2 linked regions of the Homo sapiens genome follow. The protein of the gene in region 1 purifies or fractionates together with the protein of each later gene. This does not show direct contact. Each region holds a gene or a part of one and is shown on either strand. Other genes may lie near its edges.

What was found. The genes of interacting proteins can lie anywhere in the genome.
Region 2: the proteins of MTBP (region 1) and TICRR purify together in Homo sapiens (affinity purification with western blotting; 2 studies listed by BioGRID). This does not show direct contact.

The regions. Positions count from the first base shown.
Region 1 is NC_000008.11:120,510,928-120,518,627, forward strand, and holds part of MTBP (mdm2-binding protein), read left to right. Parts: intron 1-4,287; coding exon of another isoform or gene 4,288-4,291; exon of another isoform or gene 4,292-4,309; intron 4,310-4,375; exon of another isoform or gene 4,376-4,503; intron 4,504-4,997; coding exon 4,998-5,264; intron 5,265-6,923; coding exon 6,924-7,173; intron 7,174-7,700. UniProt on the Homo sapiens protein: Inhibits cell migration in vitro and suppresses the invasive behavior of tumor cells. May play a role in MDM2-dependent p53/TP53 homeostasis in unstressed cells. Inhibits autoubiquitination of MDM2, thereby enhancing MDM2 stability.
Region 2 is NC_000015.10:89,598,952-89,606,651, forward strand, and holds part of TICRR (treslin), read left to right. Parts: intron 1-372; coding exon 373-524; intron 525-1,633; coding exon 1,634-1,734; intron 1,735-2,346; coding exon 2,347-2,440; intron 2,441-2,537; coding exon 2,538-2,617; intron 2,618-2,785; coding exon 2,786-3,025; intron 3,026-3,844; coding exon 3,845-3,941; intron 3,942-7,700.

The DNA of each region.
Region 1 (7,700 bases):
AGAATTTGAAGACTTTGAAATTAGCAGTATGAAGTATAACATTCAATAGTGATTTATTTCTAAAAGAAATCCTGTATGAAATGCTAATTTGAATCTAAATGGTAAGATAAGATTTTTAAATTGTTTTGTGAACAACAGATCGGCAACTCGGAGATAGCTACTAAATTATAAAAAGATAAGATATGCCACCCGATCCATGTTTTTAGTTCTGCTATTTGACTAAAGGATTCCTTGTTTGAGAGGATTATTATTCTCCCTTTAACATGAAAAAGGTAGGGATGTTTCCCAAATAGCCTTAAATTTAGCTGAAGCTTTTACTTAAACTATATTTTTAGCCATATACCCTTCTGTGGATTGATTACAAAATTTTACTTCTCTTTTTTCTTTTCTAGACAGTCTCACTTTTTCACCCAGGCTGAGTGCAGTGGCACAATCTTGGCTCACTGCAACCTCCGTTTCCCGGGTTCAAGTGATTCTCATGCCTCAGCCTCCCAGGTAACTGGGATTACAGGCATGCACCACCACGCCTGGCTAATTTTTATATTTTTAGTAGAGACAGGGTTTAGCCATGTTGGCCAGGCGGTCTTGAACTCCTAACCTCAGGTGATCCACCTGCCTCAGCCTCAAAAAGTTCTGGGATTACAGGCATGAGCCACCGCACCCACCCCAAAATTTTACTTTTCATTTATACTAAGTTCATTAAATTTAAGTGGGAACATCTTGTTCTACTATATAAACATTTGATTAATAGGATATATTTTTCTGTTTTCCCCCTTCTGATTTTATTAAAGACTTAGAAATTAAACATTATAGAAAAGTTTATAATGAAAACCAACAATTCCTTTCCTTATTACTACCTAACTGCATCCCAGTTTTTAGAAAAAAACAATATATATATTATTTGTTTGGTTTAGTTTCCCTGGTGGTTATCTCTCATTTTAAAAAATACCCTTATGTCAATATTTTTAACTGTCACAATATAAAATATTGACTCTGCTATGAAGATTTGGTTCTTCTTCTCAAGTTGAGCTCTCCGCTATTTACTTTCATGTTTTTAAATATATACACATTTAAACTTCTCCTTCTTATTCCATCAGCTATAAAGCAGTATCTCCCCCACTTTGTTTGATAAGAATTTTAGGACCTGTTAATCTGTTAATCTGTTAAAGGAAACTAATTAAAAATTTTAGGTATTTTGTATTTAATTTGAATGTGAAAGTTGAAACCAGTCAACAGTGTTTATATTATTATTATGAAAAGTAGCGTTCACTGTTGAGAAAATGTGCTAGTATTAACATTTGCTTTGCTACATGGCCAGAATACCCCAGGACACATCTGTTTTTCTCTTCTTCAGCCCTATAAACACACTGAAGCACTGATTTGAATAAAATAAGCTACAATAATTACATTTTAACTGCTGACTAAAGTGTCCATCATATAATCTTATTTAGATTATTTCTCCCAAAATTTTAATTTAGTTTTGTTTATTCTGTGTCTCCATCTCGCTACTCTTTTTTTTCTGCTGTTTTTAATTTACTATAGAAGAAATCTTGATATATACAAATTTATAAAATTTGTCAAGGATATGTTCTTCATGATCATTTATCAAAATATTAAATTAAGATTTATTTGAGTACTGTGTCCTGAAGGGCTTAAATCTACACAGAGCTTTATTAACTTATACACATACAATGTTATGAAATTCTGATTCACTGTAAAAAGTATTTCTCTTCTCCACTACCTACCTACTCCCATAAACAAATAAACAAATCTATCTGTGACTCACTTTTTTTTACTGTAAATTTATGCTCATTAAACTGGGGACATTGAGACTAGGCTGACAAAGTTGTAGGAGGTGAGCACCATGAATTCAGAAACATGTTTTTTTCAAGAAGATTTGGGTGTATAGTATGAGAACCGATTTATGTTCAACATAGATTATGGTGTAGAAACAAAGTCAAGTAACATTTTAAAGTAAATATGAAACTACAAAGAAAGTTCTCTTACGTTATTGTGGGCCTTTAGAACCCTGGAGCTCTTTCTCTGATACAAAGGAATATTTGGAAAGAATGTGTTAATGGCATGGGAGCAAAACAATGTTTTTTAAGGCAAGTTAAAATATTAACCACTGTTGGCTTGTTTGTTTTTTCACTTATTTACCCTATCCTGGAATTTAAGATGCCATTAATTGTAAAATACACTGTTTTATTAAACAGCTAATTAAACTCTGCTGTCATACTCTGACAATCATTTGATCACACCAGGCTCTCATTGCTTTGAAACTTCCTTCATCTATTCCAAGAGATTTGGCAGTTCCTTCTGCCTTAATTGGTATTGGTTGGTTTGTGATAGGCAGTATTTTGTGTATTTCTTAGTTACAAAACAAAAACAGCTTCATTGTCTTATGGGTGTTTTTCTTTGTTAGGACCCATAAAGCATTTGCTTATTGTTTTGTAAGAAAATATGGAATTGTGGTCATTCATCCAACAATAAATTTTTACTTCACTAATATCAAATATACACCCTGCCCCTTGCCTCTCTGTTTCTTTTCTCTAATTTACAAAGTAAATTTTTGTTCCGATGGCAAATCATAGTATAATCATTTTAAAGATATTTTAAATGGCAATTAACATCAACATGTACAGTGTGCATAATTCAGTTGAAGCTATGACACTATGAACAGCTGTGATCAAGAGATGTTAAAACCGGAAGAAAAAAATCTGCATCTTAGAAATAAAATCTTAAGGTAGAAAGAAATATTCATCTTAGAATCAAAATATGCATCTTTTCTCTCAAAAATTTTCTGTATTCAAGCTCATCAGGCATTATATTGCCTCTTGCCAGACTCTTGAAATTCACATTTCCAATTTTACTCTAGATTCTACCAATTACCCATGATAGAAGTCGGACTCATCAGTAACCCTTAGGGTTGCTTCTGGTTTTTAATGAAATATGTTTCTTAAGCAACAGACTAGAGAAAGAATATTAGCTAGAGAGATGCCAAGACCTAGGTTCTACTCCCTACTCTGCCACCAACTCACATTCAGATTTAGAGATCAATTTTGTCACCGGTTAAATTAAACTGAGTAGATCAGAGATTTTTCAGTCCTAGTTATAATTTAGAATCATCTAAGTAGACTTTTTAAAAAGTGTGTATTTTTAATATTTAAATATAATTAATTTTAATATAATAAGATGTTTTGATGTACGTATGTATAGTGAAATGATCACTGTAGCCAGGCAAACTAACATAACCATCATCTCACATAGTTACCTCTTGTTTTGTGTGCCAAGAGCACCCAAAGTCTAGTCTCTTAGCAAATTTTCAATATACAGTACATATGATTAACTATAGTCCTTGTACTGTATGCTAGATTTCTAGATTTATTCATCCTACATAACTCTGCAACTTTGTACCCTTTAATCTACATCTTTCCATAACCTTCCCCATCCCCATAACCACTATTCTACTCTGTTTCTATGGATTTGAGTAGTTTTTTAAGAATCACCCAGGCAGATTTTTAAAACTGTCAAAGACAGAGTATTACCCTAGACCAATTAAATCAGAAACACTGAGCAAGTAGTATTTCTTGAAAGCTCTTCAGATGGTTCTAATGCTCAGCCATGTGTTGAACAGGAGTAAGATGATTCTTACACTTTACATAGAGATAGTATACCAAAATGGTTAAAGTCAGGCTCTGAAGTCACCAACCTGGGTTTACATTCTGGCTGTGCTACATATTGTCAGCATACTGCCAGCTTTACTGTGGTAGAAAATAAATCTAATGATGATGATAACAATAATAGTAACATACATTTCTTGACTGCCCTGTTTGCATGTTTCAGGCACTGATTCTAAGTGTTTATGTGTACAATTCAAGAAATTATCACAATAGCTTTTTCAGATAAGTACTATAATTCTCATTTTGCAGATGAAGCAACAGAATCATAGATAAAATTAAGTAATTTGGCCAAGTTCTCACAGCTAATAAGTAGAGGAGCCTGGATTTAAATCCATGGACTCTGACTCCGTAAGTCTGTATCAAATATGTAAGTGTCACAAGGGAAAGATAAGGTTCTTAAAACCTCCATCAAGCAGTCAGATGTTCAGGAAATGATAACACTCCTTGGGAGTTGAACTAAATCTTTTGGATACAAAAATCTGATTTTAGGCAGTATCTTAGAATTTTGCAGGTAAAAATGACAGGTCACAGAGAAAGGTTTTAATTTGTACAGTGCTACCATCACATATGTGAAGCCATTTGTGTTTTTTTAATGCTGTTGTAGATAAGGAAGAAAGTGAAGAGTTGTCCAAGGTCACACAGCTCCTAGGTGATCTTCCTGATATCCTTGTTTGTTGTACTTAACAACCTAGGATTTCTTTGAGTCCAGAAGCATTCACTGAGCTGACATTTCATTGATGCCCTGAATCAGATTCAGCTAGAAACCACATGCACAGACAGCCGAAGTGTTTGAAGGAAAATCTGTCAATTAGTTAATAAGGTGGGAACTGAGTTTCAAAGAAAAAATTCTAAATGTTCTAAGCTGTTTGGTGAGCCAGTTTAGAATGCCTTTATACCCTTTTAATCTTTGTGTTGAGAATAAACTTGCCCTTTCTAACAGAAGTCAGCAGTTCATGTTGTCATATATCAGCCATACTGAGAAATCAGGGGTTGGTAGAGTTTTAAAAAGCATTAAAACAGCAACTGTATTATTTTGAAAATAAGCCAAAGGATTAACTTAATCTGTTGCCCAGAAACACAAGTGAAAGAGAAACACAAGTGAAAGACATTTTTTAATCTTTTGCCATATCATATAGCAAACTAGAAGAAAACTGAACTTGGGAGGGAAATAGGCCAGCCACTCAACCTTCCAGCAATTATTAGGAAATTAAACAAGAACTCTTAAAGTAAATGTCCTGCTATTTTCTCATTGAAAGGGGAAAGTCTGTTGCTCTCATGGAGGTTTACATTTTAATGCTCTTTCACTCATTTTAGATATTGCTTGGATGACCGAAAAGCTTTGGAAAGAGATGGAGGATTTTCTGAACTTCAGTCTCGTCTTATTCGTTATGAAACTCAAACTACCTGCACCAGAGAAAGTTTTCCAGTACCTACTGTGTTGAGCCCTCTTCCATCTCCTGTAGTTTCGTCAGATCCTGGAAGTGTCCCTGACGGAGAAGTTTTACAAAATGAACTTCGAACTGAAGTATCCCGATTGAAACGGAGATCTAAAGATCTGAATTGCCTTTATCCCAGAAAAAGGTGATATATTACATGCACATAAATAGTATATTGACAGAAAGTATTTTAGTCTCGAGGATTTTTATTTTATTTTATATTAGTCTTTCAGGTTAATTTCTTCATGGCAAGAAGTTTGTTTTATGAGCTGTTGATAATTTTGCTTATAAGTTATAAAAATAAATGATTTGGGAAAAAAACACAGTTTCTTGCTTTATATGCTAATATACAGTCCATTAGCACAATGGATTGTAAAGTTTTTAAGCCATGGAACAGTGGAGATTTCACCCCATAGATTAAGCTGCTGAGCTGCCCTGTTGAAGAGACTGTTTGGGGATGGGAGTTCTCCCATTAGCTCTTCCTTTCCTTTCCCCTCAGTTTCCTGCCTGCATTGTTCCCTTGAGCAAGAGATTCCATGAGGTACCATTTTTAAAACACCTGTTACATATAAAATATAGCTTTAAACACTGCATAATGATAGAATATATGAAACTTTTCTGGATGCGTTAGTTTGCTAACTAAATGAAATATCCAGATACTTGATCAGAAGTTAGAAGTTTATGTAGTGAACACTAATTTTTATTGAATTTATGTTATCTTTAGAACCTTTGTCAAACTTAGGTTCTTGGCATCTAAAGCAAGGCTTGAATTCTTATTGTATTTAAACCTTGCAAAAAGTATGAACTATATGAAAACATAACTTTCAGATCTTTTTTTGAATAGTTAAGAAAGTTAGAATAAGGTTACCCTGATATGGAAGAACTCAGTCATTTTTATGAGGACTTTATAAATTCATGGTACTTTTTATACCTGATAAAATTAAAAAGCAGCAGTTACATTTGGGGTACTATATTTATAGCCATATTTCTTATTTCTGACCTATGGCTAATAAAAATATATGTGTTCCTAAAAGGAATGTATACTGTGGCTTCTGGGTCAGCAGAATTGAGGGCTATAAGACCCTATCTTGTAAAGGGAAAAATTTGGGCCTTGTCAGGAACAAATGTAAACATTTTAGGAAGATTGAAGTATGAACCAGTTTTATAGTTTATTTGTATTTGTTTTAACACTATGACTTATTTTGCAAGGGAGTTCCATGGGTATAAAAAGATACAGGTTGTGGTGTTTCTGTTCAAATTATCTTAACAGAAAAGTATAAATATTTAACAGATTAGTATTAAATCTATAAATAGCAGCACTCTTGGCATGCATAGCTGATTTATTTGAGAAATTGTAAATTGGAGGGATGGGAGAGAGTATAACAATATTGTTTGTTGCTTTCTCTATTAGCCAAAATCCTAGTTTGCTATTCATTACCTTCTATGTGTTAGTTACTCATCTGAAGAACTAAGGAACAACTTTATAATATGATGTTTATTGCTTACTTAAGGCAGTAATAGCAATAAATTTTGTTTGCTTTTCTTGAATTTATGTTATAATGGATATAGTGGTAACACTATAACATAGTGGTATAGTGTTATATATTATGTAATATATTATGTTATATATTATCTATTATGTAATAACAGTGGTATAATATAGTGGTAACACACTGGTAAGACAGAAAATGAACTTCGATGTTGATTCACTTAATGGATATAGTTGTAATATTTAAGACAGAAAATGAACTTCGATGTTGATTCGCTTAATCTACGTTCTTGATTTTTTTCCCCTGCTATATAGACTTGTGAAATCTGAAAGTTCAGAGTCTCTTCTTTCTCAGACAACTGGTAATAGTAATCACTATCATCATCATGTGACATCCAGAAAGCCACAAACAGAACGGTCCTTACCAGTGACTTGTCCATTGGTTCCAATTCCTAGCTGTGAAACTCCAAAACTTGCTACAAAGACCAGTTCAGGTCAAAAAAGTATGCATGAATCAAAAACATCAAGGCAAATTAAGGAATCAAGATCACAGAAACACACACGGGTAAAGATTTATTTCCCATTTTTCTTAGTTCTACATAGGAAGACTTTTTAAATTTGATTACTTTAAAATATATGTCTAAAAAATTTTATGAATGAAATGAAACGATGTCTAGAATTTACTGGTGTAAGAAGGATGATAGGAAAGTAGGTGGGGATATAATTGAAACAAGATTAGCCACAGATTAATCATACTTGAAGCTGGTTAAAAGATATATCAAGATAGAAATTTGTTATAAAATATTCTGTGCGTGTCAAATATTCTCTACTTTTCTATGCTTGAAATTTCCCATAATAAAAAATAAATATACACTTACATATCCCTGCTGTGTGTAACTTTAACACTCAGATTTCAATTCAGAACTCATGATTTGAGTTCCTTTCTTAAGACACTGTAGTCATTTCCTGCTAACATATTATTCCTGTGACACTTCTGACCATGTAAATGTTAGATCTTTTTTTTCTCAATCATTTTGTCTTAATGAACCTGTCTGTCTTTTAGCACAGCAAAATGAATGTGTAATTCACAGG
Region 2 (7,700 bases), on another chromosome or scaffold:
GGTGAGCCGAGATTGTGCCACTGCACTCCAGCCTGATTGTCAGAGTAAGACCTTGTCTCAAATAAAATGAAATAAAATTAATCACTTATCTCTGTAGTTTCTCAGTCTCTGGACTATTGACATTTTAGACCAGATAATTCTTCGTTGTAGGGCTGTCCTATGTATTGTAGGATGTTTAACAGCATCCCTGGCTCCTACATACTAGATGGCCAGCAGCCACCCCCGCCCCCACCACCATCAGTCATGACAATCCAGACAAGGCCAAATGTTCCCTGCAAGGAAATATTTTCCCCAGTGGACAACAACTGGCCTAAGTAATACAAGGACTTGAGCAAGATATGATTAATCCATTTTATTTTATTTTTTTCTCAGATTTTAAAACTGAGGAAGAGCTGCTATCATATATACGTGAAAATTACCAAAAGACTGTGGCCACAGGAGAAATCATGTTGTATGCATGTGCTCGAAACATGATCTCAACCGTTAAAATGTTCCTAAAATCAAAAGGCACCAAGGAATTAGAAGTAAGAGGGTCCAGATATTGTTGTTTGTCATGGATGTAGTGGTTGGTTGGTTGGTTGGTGGTGGATTTGGTTAGTGTCTTGGAAAATGTCTGTTATGTCATATGTGATTCAAAAATGGTAAGATAAGTAAGGGAGTAAGTACAGTTCCAGATCTCAGAAGGTGGATATGGTGAACTGGTAAGGCAGAAATCAAAGAGATGGGGTGAGCGGGGATAATTACATATAATTCTCTCCTAATGAAAAGCCTTTCCTCATGTGAGCTATATGTTAGCTGCATGATTAAGCCAGTGGTTTTTAACCCTGGCTATACTTTAGAATCACTTACAGCATTTAAAAAATATATATATGCCAACTAACCGTGGTGGCTCACGCCTGTAATACCAGCACTTTGGGAGGCCAGGGTGGGTGGATCACGAGGTCAGGAGTTTGAGACCAGCCTGGCCAACATGGTGAAACCCCGTCTCTACTAAAAATACAAAAATCAGCTGGATGTGGTGGTAGGTGCCTGTAATCCCAGCTACTCGGGAGGCTGAGGCAGGAGAATCGTTTTAACCTGGGAGGTGGAGGTTGCAGTGAGGCAAGATCGTACCATTGCACTTCAGCCTGGGCAACGGAGCGAGACTCCATCTCCAAAGAATATATATATATGCCTTGCTCTCTCCAGATGAACTGAAACAGATCTCTGGGGTTGGCGCTTTTAAAAAGCCCCCTGGATAATCCTTTTGCACTGGGAGTGTTGCAAACCACTGTTTTAGACCGTGTTGTTGTTTTATTCATGTTCAGTGGCCATCACGGAGCTCCTTCTCTAAAGCAAACAGGAGGATTTGTTTATGATACTTAGGTTTCTTAAGCACTGCTTTATGGAACGTTTCTTTTAAGACACTTTATTTAGGGCAGGCTTGTTTTATCCATGCCCACTAGCTCTCAAAATAACTTTTACCATGTTCTTTTTAAAGATATAAAAGAAGAATATTCACGTCACTTTTTCATTCAAATGAAAGAATAGAGAAGTTTATAAGGGAATATATTTCCCTTTAGTCAACTGTGAAAGAAATTAGAAATAATGACAAGTAACACTATTCTCCTATGTAATAATTTTGTATTTTTAGGTGAACTGCCTGAATCAAGTAAAAAGTAGTCTCTTAAAAACTAGTAAAAGTCTTCGACAGAATCTAGGAAAAAAACTGGATAAGGAAGACAAAGTTAGAGAGTAAGTAACTACCATTTTTTAAAAAATCATCACTCTAAAAGCTGTGAGATTAGCTCGTATCAGTTTAAAATAGATTGTTCGTGACATGGTGGCTCATGCCTGTAATCCTAGTACCTTGGGAAGCCAAAGCAGGAGGATTGCTTGCAGCCAGGAATTTGAGGCCATCCTGGGCAATATAGTGAGACCGTGTCTACCAAAAAATTTTTTTTAATTAGGTGAGCATGGTGGTGTACACCTGTAGCCCTAGCTACTTGGGATGCTGAAGCTGGAGGATTGTTTGAGCCCAGGAGCTCAAGACTACTGTGAGCTATGATCCCAGTACTGCACTCTAGCCTGGGCAACAGAGCAAGACCCTGTCTCAGGAAAAAAAAAAAAAAAAAAAAAAAGATTACCAACTGCATGAAGATGCTTTTGTAGCCAATTCTTTTTTATGTTATAATATGCAGCTTGAATCACCTATTTATCTAATAACTACATCAGTTTTTAGAAAAGGCACTGGCTCTCCTCCTTTTTGGTTGTTGTGTCTTATATAAATAGATCTATGCTTACGGAAGGAGCTTTTTGTTTAGTGACATCCAAAGTAGATATGACCAAGTATTTTTTTCTCTCAAGGTGCCAGCTTCAGGTATTTCTTCGTTTGGAGATGTGTCTGCAATGCCCTTCAATAAATGAAAGTACAGATGATATGGAACAAGTAGTGGAGGAGGCAAGTATATAGTTTCGTGCCATTGAAATACGCCCTAGATGCTTTCAGCTTCCCTGCAGAGGGCATCTATATAGTAACGTTCTAAAATCTCCTTCAGGTGACAGATTTGCTGCGCATGGTGTGTTTAACTGAGGATTCAGCGTACCTAGCAGAGTTTCTGGAGGAAATTTTGAGATTGTAAGTTTGATGGTTACTAACTTAACTTTAAAATTGTTTTGTCAAAACCTATGTATGGTGTTGTCTCTGAATTTTGGAGTTGTAAGGACTACTTTTTAGGCTGGGTGAGGGAGGGAATAGAGAGGGTAAGATGGTAACTGTTCCGTATTCGATCAATCTGTTCCACAGGTATATTGACTCTATCCCAAAGACACTTGGAAATCTTTACAACAGCCTAGGGTTTGTGATTCCTCAGAAGCTGGCTGGTGTCCTTCCTACAGATTTTTTCAGTGATGACTCCATGACACAAGAGAACAAATCACCACTTCTTTCTGTGCCTTTTTTGTCAAGTGCTCGTAGATCAGTGTCAGGCAGCCCTGAATCTGATGAACTGCAGGAACTTCGTACCAGATCAGCCAAGAAGAGAAGGTAAGAGGTCAAAGAATCAAAGGAATTATTTGCACTGTTATAGTTCTGATAAAAGATGTGTTTAAACTACAGTCCAGTCATCTTTGTCCATATAATTTGTTGAACTAATAGCTGCCCTTATGTCTGAATCAGAGAAGCCAACTATTAGAGCTCCTAATAGGAGCATCTGACAATCTTTATATTATCTAGGAAATATATAGTCATGTTTTGCTTAACAACAGGGATACATCCTGAGAAATGCATTGTTAGGCAATTTTTGTTGTACTAACATCAGAGTGTGCCTACCAAAACCTAGATAGTATATATTTTTTCATTTATGTATATTTTTTCATATGGAAAAGCTAATGTTCCAGCATTGTTACTGAATAGCAGTCATTTCCCCTACTTGATCTGTAATGCCAATATCAAGTGTCATTTATTAGGTTTCTATATAGGCTCCATTATAACCTATGGGACCATTGTCATATATGCAGTTCGTCATTGAAGGAAACATTGCATGACTGTATAGTGTTTATTTCCTATTTCACAAAGTCTTCTTTACTGTCCACATGAGGTCTCCAGAAACTAGGCCTTCTATGAAATAAGCTTAGAGTTTCAGCTTTTTAAATTTCCCTTGATGCTTTTCGTTGTTCATAACTGGTTGAATTTGTTACTTTTGAAAATTCTGGGGTGACTTGTTTTATTATAAACCCAGAACAACCTTAAGATAACTGGCTTTTATTTAAATCATATTTTATTTTACTTAGACTCCAGTTCCATTTGAATTTAACTATATATAACCTCTATCTAGTATGTATTAACTATTTCTATTTTTAAAAGGAAAAATGCATTAATAAGACATAAAAGCATTGCTGAGGTTTCACAGAATCTTCGACAAATTGAAATTCCTAAAGTGTCAAAGAGAGCTACGAAAAAAGTAAGTAAACCTTCCAGCTTGAGATGACACAGTAAATAAGAACAAAAAGGCAGTGTCCCTACTTTTAGGAAAATGAACTTTGGAGGATACAGAAATAATATTAAATATTTTTATGAATGTGTATAAAACTATAATCCAAGGAATAAAGAAATATAAACTTGTCAAGAGATTAACAATTTTACTCAAGAGTGTGATAGTTAGAGGTAATGTGAAGAAAAATGGCAAGTAAAAGTTAGGAATGAATTAATTCAAAATCTTTAATGTAGATAGGAAAACTCATAAAACAATAACTAAAATAAGCAAAGCAGTCACTGGAAGAGAATATACAATTGTAAGTGGACTTTGGTTGCATACCAGAAGGTGCTTTTCAATATGTTATATTTTACTTTAATAACAAATTTAGGCCAGGCACAGCGGCTCACACCTATAATCCCAGCACTTTGGGAGTCAGAGGAGGGAGGATAGTTTGACACCAACAGTCTGAGACCAGCCTGGACAACATAGCGAGACCCTGTCTCTACAAAAAATAAAATTAAGAAAAAATTAGCCAGGCATGGTGGCACATGCCTGTAGGCCCAGCTATTCAGGAGTCTAAGGCAGGGAGATTGCTTGAGCCCAGTAGGTCAAAGCTGCAATGAGCTATGGTCGTGCCACTGCACTCCAGCCTGGGTGACAAAGCAAGACTTCATCTCTTAAGTGAATTAATGAATGAATAAATGAATGAATAACAAGTTTTTTGAAAAAGATGATGACCATCATGGAGCCAGGAGGTGGAGTAGTCGCCCCTTATCTGCAGAAGATATGTTCCAAGACCCCCAGTGGATGCCTGAAACCACAGATAGTACTGAACCCTATATATAGTACTGTTTTTTCCTATGCATGCATAAGTTCAATTTGTAAATTAGGCACAGTAAGAGATTAACAACAATAGTAAAATAGAACAATTATAGCAATATAATATAATAAAAGTTATGTGAATGTGGTCTTCCTCTCAAAATATCTTATTGTACTATATTCACCCATTTTGGGGCCATGGTTGACTATGGGAAACTGAAACCATGGAAAGTGAAATCACAGATAATGGGGTACTATTGTTGTTTTTTTCATGGCAGTTGATATAAGGACTTGAGGTTTTTATTGGTTGAAAAAAAAATAAACCTAGCTGGAATCTGTTTACTAAGTAGAATTAATGTCTCGCTGAGGAAAAAAGGGAGACTAAAAACACAATGAAACTTTTCAACTGCATGAACTATCTGAGAAGAGTTAAAATTCAATAAGAACTATCTTTAGAAGCATTAATTATTATAATAGTGGTTTGTTCTGTTTCTAGATATTTGTAGCAGTCCTTTGGAATTGGAGGTGGGATTTCTTTTAAATGGTTAATGGTGTTCACTTTCTTATACTTTGTGAATAAAATGCATATCTTATATATCTCACAATCCTGATTGAAGATTGGAAAATCCGAAAGTGAATGGCCAAAAGTTGCCAGGCCTTTATTCTCACTAGATTTTACAATGATTTGCAGATCTTTCTAGCACACTTTGAAACTTTGGTTTTAGATTGGACAAGACAGTTTTCTTCTCTAAGATCAGAATTAACGCCTGGGCGCAGTGGTTCATGCCTATAATGCCAGAACTTTGGGAGGCCAAGGCAGGAGGAATCACTTGAGCCCAGGAGTTGGAGACCAGCCTAAGCAACATAGTGAGACCTTGGCTCTACAAAAAATTTAAAAATTAGGTATGGTGGTGCACTCCTGTAGTCCCAGCTACTCGGGAGGCTGAGGTAGGAGGATCGCTTGAGCCTGGGAGTTTGAGGCTGCAATGAACTATGATGAAGCCACTGCACTCCAGCCTGGGTTACAGAGAGAGACTCTGTCAAAAAAAAAAAAAAAAAAAAATTGAGGTCAGGATTTGATTGTGGTTAGTAATGTTTTTTCATGTCAAAGTTGGTACCATAGATAAGTGACAATTGTTTAACTGAAAGGACCAGATGTTACATTTTTAAAAGAATAAATCTCAGTTCTCTGAAGGACCAATATAGTTAACTCGGGAAGCAGTGAACTTACAACTTAAGCGTAGACATATAGTATTAATTACATTAATGTATATTAATTTCTTTTACGTATCTTAACTCCAGAAGATCACAAGGATTAAAAAAAAAATATTTGATCCTGCCTTAATACCTTCAGGACATACTCTCCTAGTTTTTCATTCAATTACATGGATTAACAAGGGTTGACAAACTTTTTCTGTAAAGGGCCAGATAGTAGATGTTTTAGCCTTTGCAGGCCATACGTCTCTGCAACATCTATTCAGTTCTGCTATAGTGGAAAAGCAGCTACAGGCATTATGGAAAGAAACGAGCATGACTATGTTTCAGTAAAAACTTTATTTTCAAAAACAAGAGGTGGCCCAGATTTGGTCTGTACACTGTAGTTTACTGAACCCTGGATAGGAAATTGGATGTATGACTTTTATTTTTATTTTTATTTTTTGAGATGGAGTCTCCCTCTGTCGCCCAGGCTGGAGTGCAGTGGCACGATCTCGACTCACTGCAAGCTCCACCTCCCGGGTTCACGCCATTCTCCTGCCTCAGCCTCCCGAGTAGCTGGCGTGCACCACCACGCCTGGCTACTTTTTGTATTTTTTAGTAAAGATGGAGTTTCACCATGTTAGCCAGGATGGTCTCAATCTCCTGACCTCGTGATCCGCCCACTCGACCTCCCAAAGTGCTAGGATTACAGGCGTGAGCCTCTGCGCCCAGCCGGATGTGTGACATATTTTTACAATTATAGTTTATCTCTTTATAAGAGTTATTAATCAATATAAGTAAGAATGATCACATCTCATGTCTTATCAGCAAGACCTTGGTTATATCACTGAGACCATTTGTTAAGTTTCTGCCCATATGTGGTGGCTTCTTCAATTATTATGATGAATTGAAAAAACAAAAAATCTTTAAAAAAACAGTTTCCTTGTTTTGATGCATCTGGGGTTTAGACTCTTGAATCTTCTATTGTAATAGCAAGTACATAGCAGTCTGATAAAGAAATGTTTCTGAGAGTATAGCCTCCCTCTAATTAATGTATATGGCTTTTCCCTTATTAGGTATAAAAGGTATGCATGATTATCGTTAAAAAGTTAAAACATATAAAGTTAAAAGTTAGGGTGTTCCTTCTCCATCCATTCATCAGAAGTAATCACTGATGATAGTTTGTTGTGTATATTTCCAGGCCCTTTTCTATATGCACCAATAACACCAAAGATTTATGCAGATCCGTTATATACATATATATAAATGATATAACTTAGAATACTTAATATTTTCCTTTTTCCTCCCTATCACAGATCTCTATGTTAGTACAAGTTGAGTATCTCTTACCCAAAATGCTTAGGAGCAGAAGTGTTTCCATTCTTAGATGTTTTTGGATTTTGGAACATTTGCATTACATGTACTTACTGGTTAGCACCCCACATCCAGAAGTCCAAAATGCTCCACTGAGTGTTTCCTTTGAGTGTTGTGTTGGCACTCATGAAGTTTTGGATTTTGGAGCATATTGGATTTTCAGATTAGGGATGCTCAACCATATATAGAGAGGTCTTCCTTCCTTACTCTTGTAATGTCTGCATTGGATGGGTATGTAATTTATTTAACTGTTTCACTCTTTATGGGCATTTATAGTGTTTTTTATTTTGTGTTATTACTATAGTGCAGCATTGAGTGTTTTTGGAACATTTCTGTTGTACATTTTATTATTTC